3 linked regions of the Homo sapiens genome follow. The protein of the gene in region 1 interacts with the protein of each later gene in a pairwise test. Each region holds a gene or a part of one and is shown in the gene's direction. Other genes may lie near its edges. The genes, in order: BRI3, ABHD16A and BRI3BP.

Region 1 (7,259 bases):
GAGACGGTTCCCTGAACACACAACACACACGTCTGGCCGCTGCCTGGCGTCTTGGCCCGGGAGACAGGATACCACTCACATGACCACACTTCCTCCTGCCCCAGGTCCAGCCCGCCGGGCTCTGTCCCCCTCCCTGCCTGGTGGCATGGCAGGAATTTGCCCAAGTCACACATCTGTTAGTCCTTCTGAGTGAGGCTTGGCCAGAGAAGCCCGTGTCCCTTGTGGCTCTGCTGCCCTGGCCAGGCCTTCGCTGAAGCTGCCTGACTCCATCTTCCCTTTCTAGCCGTTTATGAGGAAGCATTTCCGCAGCCTGGCGGCGGATATGTCCCTGCTCCTCCCACCCTCCTGCTTCACCCCTGCCCTGCCCTGCCCTGCCCTGCCTTGCCCTGCCCAAGGCCTGGGCCTCCCTGAAGCCAGGTTCTCCCTTGCCCAGGGAGGCCAGTCATTCTTTGCTGGGGGTGTGGTTGTACCTAGGTGCAGGATGAGGTAGCTGCGCTGGGAGGCTCTCCTGGGCTGGAGCAGAGCCTGCGTCCTGCAAGCGGGGAAGGCAGGAGTGGGGAAGGCCCCTGGCCTGCACCAGGCCCCCATGAGTACTGGCTGGGCTGTCACTGGGTATTTAGTTTTGGGGGTGACCAGAGAGAGAGGAAATCCTGGAAAGGATTTCACTTTTCCTAGGGAAGGTGAAAAGAACAGCTGTGGAGGGCGGATGTCGCTCAGAGGTCCAGGGTGCGGCTCAGTGGCCAGCGTGGAGGCTGCCACGGCCCTTGGGGGGCAGAGGTGGGCTGTGGAGGGCACGGGGTGGTGACTGTGGAGCCCGGGAGGGGCTGGAGGGGAAGGAGCCTGTGACAGCCTTGGGCTTCCAGACGATGGAGGTGGAGGGGCTGCTCCCTCCTACCACCTGTGACCTGGAAGCCAGAGCTCCCCTGGTTGAGGAAGTGGCTGAGTTAGCTGGGATGGCTCTGCCCATATGTATGGCCTGTGGGCTGTCCCCGTCCTGACAGTCTTGGCCTGAGGTGTGGGGGCAGCGGATGGGCCGGAGCTTGGGCCTGGGCTGCTTGCTGGGCAGGGCTGCAGACCTCGGTGCCCAAGTGCTCCCTCAGTGGCCTCCTGAGTCTCTGACCTTGGGCTCAGCCCCCAGCTGTGGGCCAAGTGGCACTGCTGGGGTGGGTGTGGTGGCAGGCAGAGTCTCCGGGCACCTTCTCAGGCCTTTCTTCCACAGGGGAGGCGAGGGCTGGCCCTGGCCATTGGGTTTGCTGGGAATGGCCCTGGGAGGTCCTGGTGAACTGTCCCTAAGCCAGGCAGCTCCCCTGTGGGGAGTGGACACCCTGGGACAGCCAGAGCCTGGCTGGAGCTGCTTTGGGGCCACCTCGCCCTGCGCTGAGCATGGCTTCAGGCCCTCAGCCCTCTGAGGAAGCCCTGCGTCTCCCCTTTTCCTGGCGAGGCCTGGCCTTCCAGCGGGGTGGTGGTCTGGGGTTGTTCCTGGGCGTGGATGGTGCCTTGAGGCCACCATGTGCGCAGAGGGCAGCTTGGTGCCCTAGGGCCAGCCCCCTGTGACACTGCCTTTGGGGGCTACCTGGGAGGGAGAACTGGGACCTGCAGGATGGGTGCTCGTGACTGGGGAGCCCATCTGGGTTCAGATCCCAGCCACGCCTTTCCCGGCTGGGAGTCCCTGGACACACCCTCAGCTTCAGCCTCCTGTAAAGTGCCTGTGGGGACACAGGGAGGGCGAGGATGGCCTTCTCCCTGGGCAGCTCAGAGCCCTGCTGCCAGCCCCCTCTGTCCTTGGTGAGGCGGGAGCCCCGCGGCCTCTACTGTCCCAGGGCCCAGCTCTGAGTGGATGACAGTGGCATGACTGGCCACTTTCACTGCAGGACTGGAGTCGCCTTAAGGGAGTGCTCTTGGAATTAGTCAGTTCCCTAATTTCGCCAGTGGCCATGGTCCCTCCCTGGCCGCGTGGCTTATTGCACAAGAATGGGGGAGGGGCGGCTAGAGAGAGCCGGTCAGGACCAGAGCGGTTGAGAAGGTTGAAACCCACCTCACCAACTCAGGTGGGCTCTTCCGGGTTTGGAAGGGAGGAGAACTCGAGGCTGTGGGGACCGCAGGTGTTCCGGGGCAGGGGTTCCCCTTCTGCCCTCCAGTGCTGGGGACAGGACTGCCCTGCAGCTTGGGGAGTCTTGACCTAGAATCTGGATTGTGTTTCTCAGTTCAGAAGATTTGGGGTTTTAAAAAGTAAATGATGCCAACACTCCTTTTGAGGTCTAGGGCAGTACTGCAGTTAAAACTTTAATATTTCTGCAGCAAGACATGAATATTCAGATAAAGTAGGATAAATTACGACTATAAATAGCCACACACCAGTTCAGGTCACATGTTGCTGCCAGGTGAGTTTGCTGTCAAGTGACAGCGAGTTCTGCCTTCAGCGCCTCTTGGCGTTTGAAGTTGTGGGTACGGCTGTGGAATCCTGGGGGGTAGGGAATGCTGCCCACCCTTAGGCTGACCCCAGAGCCAGAGGTGAGGGCCGAACTCTCCTGGCCAGCCCTCGGGCCTTCGAAGCCCGTTCAGAGCTCTCAGGCCCAAGTGCTCGTTCTCCCGGGCCGGGGTTCTCAGGTCTGGATCACAGCCTTCTGTTGCTGGCAGAGGCCTGAGCCTCCTGGGACAGCTGGATCTGTCCAGCTCCCGGGCGGCACTGCAGGGAAACAGGCTCGCTCTCCCCAGAGACCCGGGGGCCTTGGCCCTCCTACCCTCTCTTTAAGCGGTGTGGAGGTGGGCAGGAGGGTGGGGGTTGAATGGACCAGGGATAGGGAGGCTGCCTTAGGAGGTGCCGGAGTGGGTCCCTGGACTGAGGGGCTCAGGCCAGGGTGGCACAAACGGCCCAGCCCTGTGCTCTGGCTGAGGATGGGATGGGTCTGGACAGAAATTCCGTGGGTTGGAAGGAGGGTGTTTCCCTGTGCCTGGGAGGCCGTGGGGTCAGCACATTAGGTTTGGCCCATTGTGCTGCTTGCAGCCCCGGGGCTGGGAATCAAGGTGCTGGGAAGAGAGGCGCCGGGGCCTGGGTGGGCTGGGCTGGCGCTGCTGGAAATCCTAGCACTCAGGTGGGCCGGCGCCCTGGCCCGTGGCAGTGGGAGTGCAGCAAGAGTGAGCAGCCTTCCTGCACTTCTCAGCTCTGACAGAGTAGGTGGGTTTTGGGTCTGGATGGAGAATTAGGAAGCAGGAGGGCGCTGCTGCTCTTGGACTTGGGTCCCAGGCGCGAGCAGCAGCTGCAGGTGGGAGGCTGGTGTGGGCGGGGCCCCCAGGCAGCACTGTGAAGCCCCACCCCTGCCCATTGCACCATCACACCTGGATGTCTCTGCTGCGCCCCATGGGCGGGCTCCAGCCGGGCTCCCCACCCACACCCCTTTGCCCAGCCTCCTCCCAGGCATCTCTGGGCCTTTGAACAGGCAGTCAGCTCTGCCTGCAGCCCTGCCTCTCAGCAGCTTTGGTCCTGAGGTGAGGTGCTCAGATGGTCACTGATTGGGCTGGCTGAGGGGTGCCCGGTGACACTGGGGACCACTCTGGGGGGTGCGGGCCTCTCCCCTAGAAGGATTTCTCAGCCGGTTCACCCTCCCTGTCTGCTTTTTCATGGGACATTTTCTAACCAGAATATACAGCCAGTGTGTTTCCTGGGATTTGACCGCAGATGCCAGGAAGAAAAGGGAAGAGGAAGCTCCCCTGAGAGGCCTGAGGCCACTGGCTCCCTCCAGCTCCCCCGGAACCTGTCATGGCCATCTGTGGGGACACAGCTGGTGCTTGGCCTTCCCGAGGCTCCCCCACCTCGACTGTGTGGTCTTGGGAGCTGTGGCACCTGGGGGAGAAGGTCCTGGAGCCAGGCAGGGCGTGCTGCAGTCGGCAGGGCTGGGCGGAGGTGTCCTGCCCAGTCTGGACTGGCAGGGGCAGCCCTGGGCAAGGCTGAACAAGTGTGGTGGCCTGACGACCTTCTGGGGCTTAAATAGGGGACACATTTGTAAAAGCCCACACAGGAAGTAGAAACTTTCCTGGCAGACTCTGGTCTTCTGCTTGGCTTTGCCTTGGAGCTTCATGGTGTGCCCTGCAGCCCAGCTCAGCCCCTCCACACAGACAGGTGGCGTTGTGTGAGTTTGGGAAACACTGGGTATAAGAGTGCTGCAGGACTTCTCAGAGCCTTTTGAGAACGAATGGACATAGGGACTGTAGGAGAAAAGTTTCCCAAAATCGGCTGAACAATCCCCCTTTTCCAAATGCATACCACTGTGTCTGGCTAATTTTAAATTTTTGTAGGGAGGGGTCTTTGTTGCCCAGGCTGGTTTTGAACTGCTGGCTTTAAGCGATCCGCCTCAGCTTCCCAAAGTGCTGCAGTTGCAGGCGTGAGCCACGGTGTCCTACTCCACTGGAGATTGCTGAAGGGACCTCCCTGAGTAGGCTAGAGGGAGGCAGGTGGGCATGAAGTTTTTTTCTTTTTTCTTTTTTTTTGAGACGGAGTTTTGCTCTTGTTGCCCAGGCTAGAGTGCAGTGGCACGATCTCAGCTCACTGCAACCTCTGCCTCCCAGGTTCAAGCAATTCTGTTTCAGCTTCCCGAGTAGCTGGGATTACAGGTACCCACCACTACGCCCAGCTAATTTCTGTATTTTTAGTAGAAACGCGGTTTCACCATGTTGACCAGGCTGGTCTCGAACTCCTGACCTCAGGTCATCCACCCACCTCGGCCTCCCAAAGTGCTGGGATGACAAGCATGAGCCACTGCACTTTGCAACTTTTTCTTTCAGCAGTGGAAAGCCCGACTTCAGAATATTCTGGTTTATTTTTCCATAATCCCCGGAGAAGCAGGGAACAGGTTCTGTGGGTGGGGTTTGGGCTCCCCAGCCTGCTTTGCCCAGCAGGGGTGGGGGCAGTGGCCCTCATGAGTCCAGACCCCCAGGAAGCAGCTGGAAACATCCAGGGGGCTGGGATGGGAGTAGGGTCCCCCAGATGGCCAAGTTTTCTCCCCTTAGCAAGGCACAGGTAGTCATGCTTCCCTGTCGCAGGCAGGCGGCTGCACTGCCTTGCTGTAGGCTCCCCTTCCCCCCTAAGCACCAGGTCCCATCATCTATCAGACAGCCCCACCCTGTTGTGTTTTTCTGTCCACTCACTCCAGCACTGGCTGGATGGGGGGTTTGGGCCCCCAGGAGGCCCAGAAGGAGCCCGTTGGGGTCTGCCTGTCTGGTGGGAGCAAAGCTTTTCTCATTTGGGCTGAGCTGGCTAGTGTGGTTAATTTCAGCTGTGTCCAGAACTTTCCAGAAATAGCCTAAGGAGCTGAGCTGAGCACTAGGCTTCTGGCTTCCTACTTTTAGGGCCTCTGAAACTGACAGTTGGGTTCGATGATGATTTCAGGTCACTGAACCTAGGCTCACTGGCGCAGGATTTGAGGGATGGCCTGCAGGTGTCTTTAGTCTGTTACAAACATTGAACTTTGTTGAAGAGGCGGCTTTGAGATCACATTTCTCAAAATAAGTGGCCTTCAGACATTGTGTGAACATGGCCGACTGTAGTCTCCCATTAACCCACCCCCGCTACCAAAGGAACGGAAATCGAATAAAAGCCCAAACCTGACTGGATCACTAAGCTGCTAGTTGCTCCTTTTCTAAGAGCAGATGTATGTGGCTTGTGGCACCAAAATGATCATGCCTCTCAAGGTTGTTTTTTTTTTTTTTTTTTTTTTTTTGAGACGGAGTCTCGCTCTGTCGCCCAGGCCGGACTGTGGACTGCAGTGGCACAATCTCGGCTCACTGCAAGCTCCGCTTCCTGGGTTCACGCCATTCTCCTGCCTCAGCCTCCTGAGTAGCTGGGACTACAGGCGCCCGCCACCGCGCCCGGCTAATTTTTTGTATTTTTAGTAGAGACGGGGTTTCACCTTGTTAGCCAGGATGGTCTCGATCTCCTGACCTCATGATCCACCCGCCTCGGCCTCCCAAAGTGCTGGGATTACAGGCGTGAGCCACCGCGCCCGGCCATCTCTCAAGGTTTTACTTTTTGAGATGGAGTCTCGCTCTGTCGCCCAGCCTGGAGTGTAGTGGCTTAATCTCGGCTCACTGCAACCTCTGCCTCCTGGATTCAAGCGATTCTCCTGCCTCAGCCTCCCAAGTAGCCGGGACTACAGGCATGTGCCACCACGCCTGGCAGATTTTTGTATTGTTAGTAGAGACAGGGTTTCACCGTGTTGGCCAGGCTGGTCTTGAACTCCTGAACTCAGGTGATCCACCCGCCTCCGCCTCCCACAGTGCTGGGATTACAGGCGTGAGCCACCACACACCCTGCCTTGCCTTTCAAGGTTAACTGATGAGTCCTTTCAACTGTTTTATTCTTCCCGTTTTCTTTGAATGTTACATGTAGTGATTAAATAACTATGGCCATTCCATGAACGGGTACGTGCAGCTGGTTCTTGGGGCTCTCCAGGCCAGTGGGCTGTAGCTGGGTGGTGGGGTGGGGGGCTGTTTTCTGTCACTCGCCAGAGGTCCCCATGTGACTCATGGCCACTGGTTGGTTATTGAATGCAAGGGTGGCAGGGGTGAGGGTTCTGGCTGCCCGGGTCCTTACGGTGCCACCCTCTCTGCCCGTCTCTGCTGCAGGGTTGGGGTGCTGGAGGACTGCTTCACCTTCCTGGGCATCTTCCTGGCCATCATCCTCTTCCCCTTTGGGTTCATTTGCTGTTTTGCCTTGAGGAAGCGACGATGCCCCAACTGTGGAGCCACCTTCGCTTAAAGGGAACACCAGGCCCGGCTTTCCTACACCCAGCTCTCTTTTTCTAATGTAAATGTTGTGTACAATAATTTTATTTGATTAAGCTTCAGGACTGTTTTGTAAAGCGAGGTGGGACCGATGTGGCACACGCCAGCTGCGGTTTCCCGGAGCGTGGAGAGGCAGTGCTGCTGCTCCCGCCCGAGGCTCATGACAACTCAATAAAGCACTGCTTTTATTTTTTGCAGTCTTCAATTTGAGAAAGGTGAGAAATAATGTTTTCAATAAATGAGATTCATACCATTGTTGACCTGGTGCTGCTTACTCGGTGCTTTCAGAGACCCAGGAAAGACTGGAACGACACCCCCATCGCTCCCCCGGCCAGTCCTGACCACAGTTGTATTCAGCAGGCGCTTACAGCTCAAGAAAATGTTTTCAAGTTCTGCTTTATTATTAAAGTTGTAATCCCTTGATATTTACAGAGCAGGCACCTCGGTGCCAAGGACCAGGCCATGCCCGTTCTGGTCTGGGA
Region 2 (7,129 bases), on another chromosome or scaffold:
GTTTCCCCATGATGTGTGGGGATCAGACCCCTGGATAACGAAGGTGTTGTTGAGGGTGGGTAGGAGAGCCTCCCCTGAGTTCTCAGTACCCCTTTGCCTCTCGTGCCCACTGCAGAGGCAGCTTGCCAACTACAACTTTGACTTCCGGAGCTGGCCAGTCGACTTCCACTGGGAAGAACCCAGCAGCCGGTGAGGCCCCAGTTCTTTTGCTGTATCTCTCCCCTTAGAACCATTCCAGAAAATCTCTGCTCTGCCCTCCCACCTCCATGCCCTCTCAGGTCACAGTGCCTGCCTTCCAATGCCATTATGTCGTTCCTAGACCCCACTGTTCTCCAGACCTCAGACATCCAGCTTGCTGCTCCTGACCCTATCCTTCCCTGCATCTTTCCCTTCCTCAGGAAGGAGTCTCGAGGGGGCCCTTCCCGCCGGGGTGTGGCCCTGCTTCGCCCAGAGCCCCTGCACCGGGGGACAGCAGACACCCTCCTCAACCGGGTTAAGAAGCTGCCTTGTCAGATCACCAGGTGGGAAACAGCAGCGAGGAGAGGCCCACTGGGGTGGAGGGGCCATTTCAGGAGTGCTCTGGGAGTGGGCGCTCCATTGTAAAATAGCTGTCACTCATTGGGCCTAGTGCTGTATGGTTTGTGTAGATCATTTATGGCAAAGTCATTTTTATCCATATTTATGTTTGAAGAAAAGAGGCTCAGAGAGGTCTGGAGTCTCAAATGTAGTAAGTAAAGAACTGGGATATGAACAAAAGCTCCTTCAGTGAGGCTGAAAAGGAGCAGTGGGGGTGGGGTGGGGGTGGGGAGGACACACACTTGTAGCTAGGGCAGGCTCTGGTAGCATCTGTGTACCCATCGTGGCCCCTCTGCCCTGTTGTTATTCCACCTTGGCTCCGGGCCCCTGTGTGCCTCAGTGTCTGCACCTGTGATGAACCTGCCCTGCAAGGTTGCTGAGGAGATTAAGTAAGGTAACATGTTCTGAAGGGCTCCTGCCTTGCCTGGGTGCTTGAGAGCACATGGTAAATCCCAAATAAAGCTCAGTCGTGGGTACTGATGATGTCAGAAGGAACGGAAATAACCACCTATATCTTATAGTGGAACAGACACTGGGAATTTTCTTTTGCTGGGAGTTAGGAGGCAGCTTCTAGAATACCAAGGAACAGGGTGGACTTAGTGGTTGGTTGTTGACAGTGTGCTAATTAGTCAGGGAGGCAAGCCATATTTGAGGTTTTGAATTATAACCATCATTTTTTAAAGCATTATTTATTTGGGGACCTTTAATATGTTGTACTTATATTTTAACAGAATCATAATCTGATGATAACTTTGCATTTACTTATTATGTATAGACAGTTACATCATAAAACTCTCAGAATTCTGTACATACAGGATATGTGTGCACTGAGCCACAATATAAAATGTTTATCTTACAAAGGTTGCAGTAAGAAAAGTTTGCAAAACACTAGCCTGGTACATATTTCATTAAGGCTTGAAAGAGGAAAGTAAAGCTGTGAAGGTCAGGGGTAAAGCAGGCCTTACAGTCTGTGAGTGCTAGGGCTGGGATGGTCCCCAGCACAGTCCCCAGGCCTCAACAGGGTTGGGGTTTGTTAACCTGTGTTCCCCACAGCTACCTGGTGGCGCACACCCTAGGGCGCCGGATGCTGTATCCAGGCTCTGTGTACCTGCTGCAGAAGGCCCTCATGCCTGTGCTGCTGCAGGGCCAGGCCCGACTGGTGGAAGAGGTGAGGCTTCCCTGCCCGCACATCCCCTAAAGCCCTCCCCTCTCACCCCCACCCACCCCGCCCCACCCCTGTGATGTGGCCTCCTGACCCTTGCATCTTGGCCATTGCGTCTTCCGTACTCAGTGTAATGGGCGCCGGGCAAAGCTGCTGGCCTGTGATGGCAATGAGATTGACACCATGTTTGTGGACCGGCGGGGGACAGCTGAGCCCCAGGGACAGAAGCTGGTAAGAGGGAGCAGAGAGCCCAGAGGTGGGGTGAGTGTGAGGAAGGCAGTAGAGGTCTGGGGACCCCAATGCTATAGCACCTCCCTGAAGGAACCACTACTGGGGATAATCTCATGTCCTAGCTCCACGCTAAAGACCTTGTGATGTAGTGAAACCCTGTGATAGAGAAACAGATGAAGTAGGAGAGACGTTCAAGGACGAGAAACTAATATTAATAGTTACCACTTTGACAGCACTTCACACTTATATATATTTAATTCTCATATATATATGAAGCATATATATTTAATTCTCAAAAGAATCCCGTGAGATAGGTACTGCTTATATTAGCCCATTTTACAGGAGATGAAACTGGGGCACAGAAAACCTTTCCTGGACCTCACAGTAAGTGGTAGAGCTGGTATTTGGACCCAGGCAGCCTGGCCTCAAAGTCTCCTACCTCCATGAAGCAGCCGTGGAAAGAGCGCTAAGCCAGGAGTCTAGGGAGCTGGGTTCTAGTCCTGGCTCTGCCCATCTGTTATGAGAGTTCATGCAAATCCCACCATTCGTGGGTTTCAGCTTGGGGCGCCATGGCATTACAGTTTATCTGACCATAAGACTGGAGCTCAGAGAGGGATAGGGAGAGCAATCAGCATACCACACAATAGCAATGGTCACAGAAGATAACAGACCCGAAAACGAGAAAGGAAAAACATCTCCATAGTCCCCTTCCTGAAAGAGATCCAGCTGGTAATCTTCCAAGGAAAAGACATGGCTGGGTGGTCGAGCAGGTCAGCCTCTGAGGAGTATTTGTAATCCCTTTGCTTCTCCTCTTATGGACCCTGTGGAATGAGAAGCTTCCATTCCCCTTGGAGAAAACAGAAACCTGCCCTTTCCTCTTCCCTGCAAAGCTCTTCATGGGCTGCCCTCCCTGCCCAAAGGGAGTTTTTCAGTCCCAACTTGGCCCCCCAGCCCTTCCTTCCTGCCTCCTTCCTAGGTGATCTGCTGTGAGGGGAATGCTGGGTTTTATGAGGTGGGCTGCGTCTCCACGCCCCTGGAAGGTAGGACGGTGACTCAGCCTCCTTATCTCCGCCCTTTGAAAGGGAATGTCCCTGCCTCCCACACTGACCTGACCTCCCCTGGCCTCTGCTTTCTCTGGGTGAGGTTTTGAGTCTCTCAGCTTTAGGGAAAAGTCCACTCGCCATTTGCTTTGATAACCTTACATCCCTCCCCTGGCCTGTGTCCCTAGCTATTATGCTTTTCATTCTGTTCCATTCCCCCACCACACACCCCACACAATCACATGCTGCTCCCTGTGCTGCCTCAGAACCTCTGGTGTCATCTCCTATTTCTGGGAAGGCTTGGAGTTATTTGCATCTAAGCTGGGGGGTACTTCTGCTCTTCCTTCCCCCAGGGATGGAGAAAGGGCTGTGGGCCACAAGGTCTCAGTCCCTCCTCCCCCTGTGTTACAGCTGGATATTCAGTCCTGGGCTGGAATCATCCAGGCTTTGCTGGAAGCACGGTGAGACCATCTCAGGAATCCCTTCCTTTTCCTGAATTATGTCTGTTTCCCTCTGGTCAGCCATTGGAGGGAGGAGAGGGGCTGTGGATTTCTTGAAGGCGTCCCACTCACCTGAGGGCTGGGGTCTAGGAGGTTGTGAAGGCAGCATTGGGAGCCATGCCCCCATCCCCACAGTGCGGGGCTAGCAGGAGAGGAGGAGGTAGATCTCATTGTACACATCCGTCTTCTGGAGAGAACAACCTCTCCTACCATCCCTTCCTTCTACACCTTCTCTGCCTGTCATAGGTGGCTGCAGGAGGGGTCCACGTTGGGAGGGACAGGTGAGCTGGCCTTTGGTGCTGACACACTCCTGACTTTGCCCTTTCTCCTGCAGGGGGTGCCATTCCCGCAGAATGAGGCTAATGCCATGGATGTGGTGGTCCAGTTTGCCATCCACCGCCTAGGCTTCCAGCCCCAGGACATCATCATCTACGCCTGGTCCATCGGCGGCTTCACTGGTACCAGCCTCCCTCCCATCCCCCACTGTAGACACATTCATGACCACCCAGCCCCACCCGGGAGAGGTGGGGAAATGGGGTGGGGTGGAGGCTCAAGGAAGAAGAGAGAGGAAGTAGAATCTCTGAGTGGGCCTGGAAGAAGCTATCCTATTTGCATACACTTCACCTTTCCTTCCCCTCTTGTGCCCAGTCATTAAAAGGAAAAGCAGACCCAGGTCCTGGGTGGGGAGATCAGGGAAAGTGAATGTTTCCTGCCCATTATCTTCAGTGCACTATCTCCAGTGTTCTATCCCCATCCTCTCCAGATAGTTCCCTAACCAAGTGAAGTAGGTTAAGAAAAAAACAAGGGATAACATAGGGGGAATGGGGTTGGCCTATAGGGTCAGTGGGATGAGAGCATGGGTGGTGGGGAGAAAGGAGCCTTTCTCAGTTCTTACTCTTCTTCCCTGCCCTGGTACCAGCCACGTGGGCAGCCATGTCCTACCCAGATGTTAGTGCCATGATCCTGGATGCCTCCTTTGATGACCTGGTGCCCTTGGCCTTGAAGGTCATGCCAGACAGCTGGAGTGAGTGCAGCTCCCAGGCCTGCCCTTCCTGGGAAGGGGTGGGCTGGAACTGGGAACTGTTCTGAGATGGCTCCCTTTTCTTGGGTGGGGAGTAAGTCGCCCCATTGTTGGAAGCAGGAGGACTCCTTTGTCTGGGGGCCTCAGTTTTCTTTCTCCGTGAATAGTGAGGACCTTTATGTTGGGCAAGGGCTTTGTCTCTGCCATCCCTTCACCTTTATCCCACTCTAGGGGGCCTGGTGACCAGGACCGTGAGGCAGCATCTCAATCTAAACAACGCGGAGCAGCTGTGCAGGTGAGGGCCGGCCAGCGTCCGGCATTGAACACCTGCCCCCCATACAGCTCTGCTGGGCGCTCAAACCCTGAAACTAGTACTAAAGTGCAAGTTGGTAAAAGGCCACTGGCTCACATCCTGAGTGACCCTGCCACCACCTCAACTGGCCTAACCCCTCCCAGGTCCCCTGGGACTCTGGACCACCTCAGGATCTGGCAACCAAAGGGTTAAGGCCTGGCACGGCAGGGGTCTCCCAGCAGGGCCAGACTGAACCATGCCCCTTAAATAATCCCCTCTCACCCCTGAGTGAAGGGCTAGGTCAAGGGCTGTGCTATAGCAAGGGGAGGGTAAGAATGCTACCAGTGCAGGGATAGGGGTGGGCCAGTTGTCACCCGTCTCCCTCTGAGCTCTCCCTTCCCACTGCTCTGTTCTCTGAAGATACCAGGGTCCTGTACTGCTGATCCGGAGAACCAAGGATGAGATCATCACCACCACGTGAGTGCGTGGGAATCTCGGCCCTCAGGAACCCCAGAGATGGCCAGGAACTTGTCCCTTCTACCTCTGCCCACCAGAAACCTGGGTATCTAGACCCTTCCTCCTAACCTCCAGCCCCTCCAGGGTACATTCTTCTCACCCCCAGGGTTCCTGAGGACATCATGTCCAACCGAGGCAATGACCTCCTGCTGAAGCTCCTGCAGCATCGGTGAGAGCCAGGGTGTGTGCGCGCTGGGGGCAGTGTACACACACAGATACTGATACCAGCACAGGGAAGGAGGGAGGAAGGTTCAGGGATGGTGAATGAAAAAAAATCAGCCCTGACCTGTCCTGGCACTTCCTCCGTAGGTATCCCCGGGTGATGGCAGAGGAGGGTCTTCGAGTGGTGAGGCAGTGGTTGGAGGCCTCCTCACAGCTGGAGGAAGGTGAGAAGGGATCCAGTGAGGCTTGGGGCGGGGGCCCAGCAAGGTCAGGTTGCTGACTGGCTGTCATCTCTCTCCCTGACCAGCCTCAATTTATAGCCGATGGGAGGTGGAAGAGGACTGGTGTCTGTCTGTCCTCCGCTCCTACCAGGCAGAACACGGGCCCGACTTCCCCTGGAGCGTGGGTAAGGAGCTCCTGGGGCAGGAGAGAGGGTGGGAAGGGCCTAGGAAGGGGATGAATACCCAGATGTGTGGCCTATTTTGAGCGCCTCCTCTCTGCAGGGGAGGACATGAGTGCAGATGGACGGCGGCAGCTGGCTTTGTTTCTGGTGAGCTAAGGAGTGGGAAGTGGGAAGGGTTCTTGAATGGCCAGGGCTCACATAGGGGGACTGGGGATACCCTATAAGCATTGGAAGTGGCAGCTTTTGTAGAGTGGGTGGTGGATGCGGAAGTGGAGGGTGGGGAGGGAGTCCAGTGGCTGCCCCTCCCAACAGTGCTCTGTACCCCACCTGTCCCACCTCCTTTCCTCAGGCTCGGAAGCATCTGCACAACTTTGAGGCCACTCACTGCACCCCACTCCCAGCCCAGAACTTCCAGATGCCCTGGCACCTCTAGGGACCAACTGGGACTCATTATGGAAGAATGGGGTGAGAGGAGACATGAGGAAAGACCCTCTTATTTGTGATTCTCTGTGTTCATGTTGCTGTTTATAGTTTGTGGAAAGTGGGGGACCATCCCCCTTCTCACCACTGTTCCTCTTGCACGTTTCCCCTCATTCATGTGGCTGTACTTAACCTTCTCCAACATACATCCTGCATTACATGAATGGATTATTCCTAATAATTAATAAAAAGGTATTTTTTCTACTATCAGGCTAATTGTATAACTTCTCAAGTGTCCAGGGAGCCAGGGGCAGGTAGTGGGGAGAGCAGAGGCCCCAAAGAGCTGGGCTTTGGGAAACCCTAACTCTAGACAATCTAGCTAATCTAACCCTTCCCATCTCTGTGTCCCCCTAGGCCTTCAGCCCCTAACCTGAGCTTTCCTCAGGCAGCAGGTCCCCAAACCTCCCCGGTCCCTGATGTGCCTACTGTTATCACAACTGTGCAGCCTCCCTGGCCCCTCCCGCCTCCTTCTTCAGTTCTTCCTGCATACAACCACCCCAGGAGCCCATGGTTGCCCCCTCCTGCTTACGGCTCATGAGCTTTCTAGGATCCGATTTCACCTACCCAGTGCTTCTGCTGGTTTCCAGGTTCAACCTGCATGGTGTTACTAGCAGTACCCCCAATTTTCATTGCTCACCTCTTGTTATCTTGGTGAAGAGTGAGGAAGGGCCTGCTCCCCACGTCTTATGCAGCAAACCCTGCACACCCACCTTGCCATGTCATCAAGTCTCTGTCCTCACAGCCTT
Region 3 (7,259 bases), on another chromosome or scaffold:
TCATGTTGGCCAGGCTGGTCTCAAACTCCTGACCTCAAGTGATCTGCCGACCTCAGCCTTCCAAAAGTGCTGGGATTACAGGCGTAAGCCACCGTGCCCAGCCTGTTTTGTGAATTTTAAATAAAGGAAAACTGGGTCTGCCAGCAACTGTAGTTTTCAGCATGCCTGGGTTTACGAATTAGAGCCAAACCTGCTTTGTGAAGTTTAATGGTATTTAAAAAAACACCCCATAGTCTTTTTTTTTTTTTTTTTCCGAGATGGAGTATTGCTTTGTCGCCCAGGCTGGAATGCAGTGGTTCAGTCTTGGCTCATGGCAACCTCTGCCGCCCAGGTTCAAACAATTCTCCTGCCTCAGCCCCCTGAGTAGCTGGGATTACAGGCGTGTGTGCCACCATGCCTGGCTAATTTTTGTATTTTTAGTAGAGATGGGGTTTCACCATGTTGGCCAGGCTGGTTTCGAACTCCTGACCTCGTAATCCGCCCTCCTCAGCCTCCCAAAGTGCTATGATTAGAGGCTTGAGCCACCGTGCCCGGCCTCCCATATTCTAATCTAGGACTTGTCTGAAATACACCTATGACCATCCTGTTTGGAGCATGGGAACAGACATGAGTTTGAATCCTAGCTGTTTCTCACTCGCTCTGTGACCCTGAGCCAGTTGCTTTACTTCTCTTTTTTTTTTGCTTTACTTCTCTTTTTTTTTTTTTTTTTTTGAGATGCAGTCTCGCTTCTTCTCCCAGGCTGGAGTGCAATGGCGAGCTCTCGGCTTACTGCAACCTCCGCCTCCCGGATTCACGAAATTCTCCTGCTTCAGCCTCCCTAGTAGCTGGGGTTACAGGCAGATGCCACCACGACCAGCTAATTTTTGTATTTTTAGTAGAGACAGGGTTTCACTGTGTTGGCCAGGCTGGTCTCGATCTCATGACTTCAGGTGATCTGCCTGCCTCGGCCTCCCAAAGTGCCGGATTTACAGACGTGAACCACCGTGCACCACCCAGTTGCTTTACTTATCTGTGTCCCATTTGTTCAGAGGAGATAAATTGGGGAATTAAAGGAGATTGGTTGGGCTGCACAATGCCAGGGACTGAATAAGCATTTAGTAAATGGTAGAATATTTCTATATGAAGGGAATTTGTCTGGTAGGAGGTAATAGACTTGTTAATTCCTTTAAAAATTATTAAGTGATGCCCTGGCATGGTGGCTCACACCTGTAATCCCAGCACTTAGGGAGGCCAAGGTGGGCAGCTCATCTGAAGTCAGGAGCTCGAGACCAGCCTGGTCAACATGGCGAAACCCTGTCTCTACTAAAAATACAAAAATTAGGCCAGGTGTGGTGGCTCACGCCTGTAATCCTAGCACTTTGGGAGGCCAAGGTGGATGGATCACCTGAGGTCAGGAGTTCAAGACCAGCCTGACCAACATGGTGAAACCCTGTCTCTACCAAATACAAAAAATTAGCCAGGCGTGGTGATGCATGCCTGTAATCCCAGCTACTTGGGAGCCTGAGGCAGGAGAATCGCTTGAACCCGGGAGGCGGCCGTTGCAGTGAGCCAAGATTGCACCGTTGCGCGCGCCAGCCTGGGCAACGAGTGAAACTCCGTCTCAAAAAAAAAAAAAAAAAATTAGCTGGGCGTGGTGGTGCACGACTGTAATCCCAGCTACTTGGGAGGCTGAGGCAGGAGAATAGATTGAGCCCGGGAGGCTGACGTTGCGGTGAGGTTGAGTCGCCCCACTGCACTCAAGCCGGGGGAACAGAGACTCCGTCTCAAAAAAAATTATTAAGCAACTTATACACATGTGTTCATAGCAACACTTTTTACAATAGCTAAAAAGTGGAAATGTCCCAAATGTCTTATCAGCTGATGAAGGGATAAAATGTGATGTGTCTGTATAATGAAATATGATTCAGCCATAAAAAGGAATGAAGTATTGCTATATGCTACAACTTGGACGAACCTTGAATAAATGAGAGAAGCCAGTCACGAAAGGGCACACATTATATGATTCCATTTACAGCATATGAAATATCTGGAATAGGAAGATCCGTAGAGACAGAAAGCAGATGGGTGGTTGCCAGGGGCTGGGGGAGGGAGCAATGGGGGAATTACTGCTTAATTGATCTAGGGTTTCCTTTTGGGGTGATGACAGATTGTGGAACTAGATAATAATGGTTGCATGATATTGTGAACGTGCTCATGCCACTGAATTGTACACTTTAAAATGGTTAAAATGGCCAACTTTATGTGTATATGACTACAGTTTTTTAAAAAAATTGGCCTGGTGCAGTGGCTCACATCTGTAATCCCACCACTTTGGGAGGCCTAGGTGGGAGGATTGCTTGAGCCCAGGAGTTTGAGACCAGCCTGGGCAACATAGTGAGACCCCATCTCTACGAAAAACCAAAACCTTTGGCTAGGCATGGTGGCGCACACCTGTGGTCCCAGCTACTTGGGAGGTTGCATAGGGAGGATCGCTTGATCCTGGGAGGTTGAGACTACAGTGAGCTGTGATCACACCACTGTACTCCAGCCTCAGGGACAGCACAAAACTCTTTGTCTCCAAAAAAAACAAACAAATGAAAAATTTCAAGCACCTACTGTATGTGGAGAAAATGATTCCTCTCAGGCAGAATATAGCTGGACTGATGTGGTGGAAACATCCTGAATGCCAGGTCGAGAAACTAGTACTTTTTTCCCTTGCTCCTTGGTCGTAGTTGCATGGAATACAATTTCATGTAGTTCTGAAGGTTAAGAAACTAACTCCACTTCCCACTACCGACCCGTCTACCACCCCCTTCCCCGAAGCAGCCAGATATTCTGAACATGTATAAATATATGGATCTATAGATCTGCTCCCTATTGTTGGTTTTTGTTTATTTTGCACTATGCGCACTGTTTTGTATTTTTATTTTATTTTTCCCTGAAACAGAGTCTCCCTCTGTCGCCCAGGCTGGAGTGCAGTAGCTCAATCTTGGCTCACTGCAGTCTCTACCTCCCGGGCTCAAATGATCCTCCTGCATCAGCCTCTCAAGTAGCTGGGATTACAGGTCTGCACCGCCATGCCCTGCTAAGTTTTTTATTTTTTATTTTTATTTATTTATTTATTTATTTTTCTTGAGACGGAGTCTCCCTCTGTCGCCCAGGCTGGAGTGCAGTGGCGCAATTTCGGCTCACTGCAAGCTCCACCTCCTGGGTTCATGCCATTCTTCTGCTTCAGCCTCCCAAGTGGCTGGGACTACAGGCGCCTGCCACCATGCCCAGCTAATTTTTTTGTGTGTTTTTAGTAGAGACGGGGTTTCACTGTGTTCGCCAGGATGGTCTCGATTTCCTGACCTCGTGATCCGCCCGCCTCGGCCTCCCAAAGTGCTGGGATTACAGGTGTGAGACACCCGACCCAGCCTCATTAAACTTTTTGGCTTTATTATGTATGAGACAGATGGTCTTTTCATTTATTCAGAATCCATCGATATGTTCTGGGAACTGCCTTTTGGTTTTTCTTTTTTTTTTTTTTTTTTGCCGTTCTATTGAGCTGTTGGGTTCTTTTGTTTTTGCTTTTTTTTTTTTTTTGTAAAGAGGTTTGCATTTTTTGCTGTTTGCAAGAAAGTATTTTGAGCAAAATAACTTTGACACTTTCCAGTCCTTTTTCCCCTACCAACATTTTAACAGCTTTTTTGAGGTGTAATTGCACTACACCTCAATAGACTGTGCGTATTTAAAGTGTACAGGTTGACACCTTTTGACATACACACTTGTGAAAAATTACCACAGTTAAGATAAAGTTTCATATGATTTTTTTTTTTTTTTTTTTTTTTGAGAGGGAGTCTCGCTCTGCCACCCAGGCTGGAGTGCAGTGGCGCAATCTCGGCTCACTGCAAGCTCTGCCTCCCGGGTTCACACCTTTCCCCTGCCTCAGCCTCCCGAGTAGCTGGGACTACAGACGCCCACCACCACGCCCGGCTAATTTTTTGTATTTTTAGTAGAGACGGGGTTTCACCATGTTAGCCAGGATGGTCTCGATCTCCTGACCTCATGATTGCCTGCCTCGGCCTCCCAAAGTGCTGGGATTACAGGCGTGAGCCACCACGCCCAGCCTGTTTCCTATAATTTTTTATGTTGATAATTTTTCAAAGTACTAAAATGCTGAAAGAACAGAACAAGGAATAGCTGCAAACATCTCCCCTAAAGTCACCAGTTCTTACATTTCCCCTCAAACTTTTTTCTCTGCAAACACATCCGATAGACACATACACACATGCACACACATTTATTTTTATTTTTTGGCAGGATCATTTGAAAGTTAGTTGCAGACGTCTTAATACTTTTTCCTACAGAACCACAATACCATTGTCTCAGCCAAGAAACTTAAATATAGTACAGTATTTTGTAACAGATAGTCCATATTCAAATTGTCTTTATAGCTCATAAAAAATCCAACACCCAGTCAAGGACTGCTCATGCATTTAGTGTTCATGTCTCTAGTCTGTCAGAGTTTCCTCACTTTTGGTGGAGGAAGGGACTTAATTATGAATTTTTTTTTATTTTTATTTTTTTTTGAGACGGAGTCTTGCTCTGTCACCCAGGCTGGAGTGCAGTGGCGCGATCTCGGCCCACTGCAAGCTCCACCTCCTGTGTTCACGCCATTCTCCTGCCTCAGCCTCCCAAATAGCTGGGACCAAGGGTGCCCGCCATCACGCCCGGCTAATTTTTTTTGTATTTTTAGTAGAGATGGGGTTTCACCGTGTTAGCCAGGATAGTCTGGATCTCCTGACCTCGTGATCTGCCCGGCTCGGCCTCCCAAAGTGCTGGGATTACAGGCATGAGCCACCGCACCCGGCCCCAATTATGCATTTTTTTCTTTTAGACAAGCTCTCACTCTGTAGCCCAGAATGGAGTGCAGTGGCGCAGTCTCGGCTCGGTGCAACCTCTGCCTCCTGGGTTCAAGCGATCCTCCCACCTTAACCTCCTGAGTAGCTGGGCTTACAAGCATGTGCCACCATGCCTATTTATTTATTTATTGTATTTTTCGTAGAGACAGGATTTCTCCTCGAAATCCCTGTGTTGCCCAGGCTGGTCTCTTGACTCCTGGGCTCATGCGATCCTCCCGCCTTGGCCTCCCAAAGTGCTGGGATTATAGGCGTGAGCCACTTCGCCTGGCCCAGTAAGGGACTTTTACAGCATTGACATTTCTGAAGATCACAGACTAAATGTCTTTTTTTTTTTTGAGCTATAATTCATATACCATACAGTTTATTCATTGAAAGCTCAGCGGTTTGTAGTATATTCACAGTGCTGTACAGCTGTCACTACAGTCAGTTTTAGAACATTTGCATTACCCCAAAAAGAAACTCTGTACCCATTAGCAGTCACTACTTTTTTCCTTTGCCCCAACTCCCAGCCTTAAGCAACTGCCAATCTGCTTTCTGTCTCTATTTCTGAGCCTACTGTGGGCTTTTCATAGGAGTGGAGTCCTGTACAGTCTGGCCTTTTGTGTCTGGCTTCTTTCACTTAGCCTCATGTTTTCAAGGTTCATCCATACTGCAGGATCAATACTTTATTCCTCTTTATGGCTTTTTATTTACCTGATCATCAACTGATGCACATTTCGGTTTATGTCACTTTTTGTCTATTGTGAATGGATGCTGCTGTGAATATCCATGTGCAAATATTTGTGTGGGCATTGTTTCCAGTATTTTGCGGTGCATACCTAGGAGTCCAGTTGCTGGGTCATACAGGAACTTTTTGTTTAACACTTTGGGGAACCGTCACCCTTTTCCAAGGCAGATGTACCGTTTTACCTGCCTACCAGCATGTGGGGCCTGGTTTCCCCACATCCTTGTCAGCACTTGCTATGGTCTACCTTTTTAATTCTAGCCATCTTGGCAGACGTGAAGTAGTATTGCTGTGGTTTTGACAGTCCAGAACTGGTTTTTTTTTTTGTTTTGTTTTTTTTTTTTTTGAGACAGAGTCTCGCTCTGTTGCCAGGCTGGAGTGCAGTGGCACAATCTCTGCTCACTGCAACCTCCGCCTCCGGGGTTCACGCCATTCTCCTGCCTCAGCCTCCCGAGTAGCTGGGACTACAGGCACCCGCCACCACGCCCAGCTAATTTTTTGTATTTTTAGTACAGACAGAGTTTCACTGTGTTAGCCAGGATGGTCTCGATCTCCTGACCTCGTGATCCACTCACCTTGGCCTCCCAAAGTGCTGGGATTACAGGCGTGAGCCACCACACCTGGCCCAGAACTGTCTTTTGAAATGTCCCACAGTGTGTATTGTATTATTCTGATTATCTCCTCCGGGTTAGGCTCAGACTTAGCTTTCATGGCAAGAATTCTGCAGAAGGCATCATGTGTCCTTGCTGAGGCAGTACCATATCGGGGCTCGTGGTGTCTGTTTGTGCCATCGCATTCTCGTTGGTTGACGCTGAATTTGATCTCTGGGTTGAGGCTGGGCAGGCCCACTGCGCTGGGGGTGCCCTTTCCCCTCTGTGGTTCATACGTGGTCTGTATGTTATGTTCCAGCATTTTCCGTTCATCTGGCTTTTGCATTTCTGTGTGTTCTTCAGATGCTTGGGAAACCTCTGAATGGCAGAATCTCCCGTCCCCTCTCCCTGGCTTGCTTATCAAGATGCCTTTGCCCTCATGGCCTGATTTTCCATAGGACCCGTTTGCATGTGCCTGAGGGTGATGGAGGTAAAGCGAGATTAGGATGCAGGAAGGCCATTGTCACCCAACCCCGGTGTTGGATGTCCCCGGGTGTTGGATGTCCCCCGCCTGACTGCTGCAAGAAGAGCGCTGATGAAATCCCAGGCTTGAAGCAATCTTGTTCCCTCCCATGGAGGCGATGGCTGGGCCTTGTTTGTCTGAGTCCTCAGGCATCCACAGTTTGCTCACCTGGTCCCCTTATTTCAACTTTCCATTCTGAAAATTGTCCAACATAACCAAAGGTAGGGAGAGTAGAGTGAACCCTTGTTCACCCAGGTCTTCCCATGTAGCAACTTTCTGCCATTCTGGTTACTTCTTTCCTTCCTAAATTTTTTTGAGGGTGCCTGGAATAATATTTTAAAGCTAATCCAATACATTAGTTCACCTTTGCATATTTCAGTTAGCATCTTTAACAATAAAAATTTTGTGAAAATCAAAACCACAATACCGGCCGGGCATGGTGGCTCATGCCTGTAATCCCAGCACTTTGGGAGGCCGAGGCGGGTGGGTCACTAGAGGTCAGGAGTTTGAGACTAGCCTGGCCAACATAGTGAAACCCC

Evidence for each region.
Region 2: the proteins of BRI3 (region 1) and ABHD16A interact in binary tests that used the Homo sapiens proteins (3 or more experiments, as listed by UniProt).
Region 3: the proteins of BRI3 (region 1) and BRI3BP interact in binary tests that used the Homo sapiens proteins (3 or more experiments, as listed by UniProt).

The regions. Positions count from the first base shown.
Region 1 is NC_000007.14:98,284,493-98,291,751, forward strand, and holds the end of BRI3 (membrane protein BRI3), read left to right. Parts: intron 1-6,618; coding exon 6,619-6,751; coding exon of another isoform or gene 6,752-6,798; 3' UTR 6,799-7,053; downstream 7,054-7,259. UniProt on the Homo sapiens protein: Participates in tumor necrosis factor-alpha (TNF)-induced cell death. May be a target of Wnt/beta-catenin signaling in the liver.
Region 2 is NC_000006.12:31,686,419-31,693,547, reverse strand, and holds the end of ABHD16A (phosphatidylserine lipase ABHD16A), read left to right. Parts: intron 1-115; coding exon 116-189; intron 190-398; coding exon 399-521; intron 522-1,629; coding exon 1,630-1,744; intron 1,745-1,867; coding exon 1,868-1,969; intron 1,970-2,231; exon of another isoform or gene 2,232-2,790; intron 2,791-2,945; coding exon 2,946-3,009; intron 3,010-3,420; coding exon 3,421-3,470; intron 3,471-3,581; exon of another isoform or gene 3,582-3,843; coding exon 3,844-3,967; intron 3,968-4,428; coding exon 4,429-4,533; intron 4,534-4,761; coding exon 4,762-4,825; intron 4,826-5,242; coding exon 5,243-5,299; intron 5,300-5,444; coding exon 5,445-5,507; intron 5,508-5,647; coding exon 5,648-5,724; intron 5,725-5,807; coding exon 5,808-5,906; intron 5,907-6,003; coding exon 6,004-6,050; intron 6,051-6,252; coding exon 6,253-6,336; 3' UTR 6,337-6,593; downstream 6,594-7,129. UniProt on the Homo sapiens protein: Phosphatidylserine (PS) lipase that mediates the hydrolysis of phosphatidylserine to generate lysophosphatidylserine (LPS). LPS constitutes a class of signaling lipids that regulates immunological and neurological processes.
Region 3 is NC_000012.12:124,996,523-125,003,781, forward strand, and holds part of BRI3BP (BRI3-binding protein precursor), read left to right. Parts: intron 1-7,259. UniProt on the Homo sapiens protein: Involved in tumorigenesis and may function by stabilizing p53/TP53.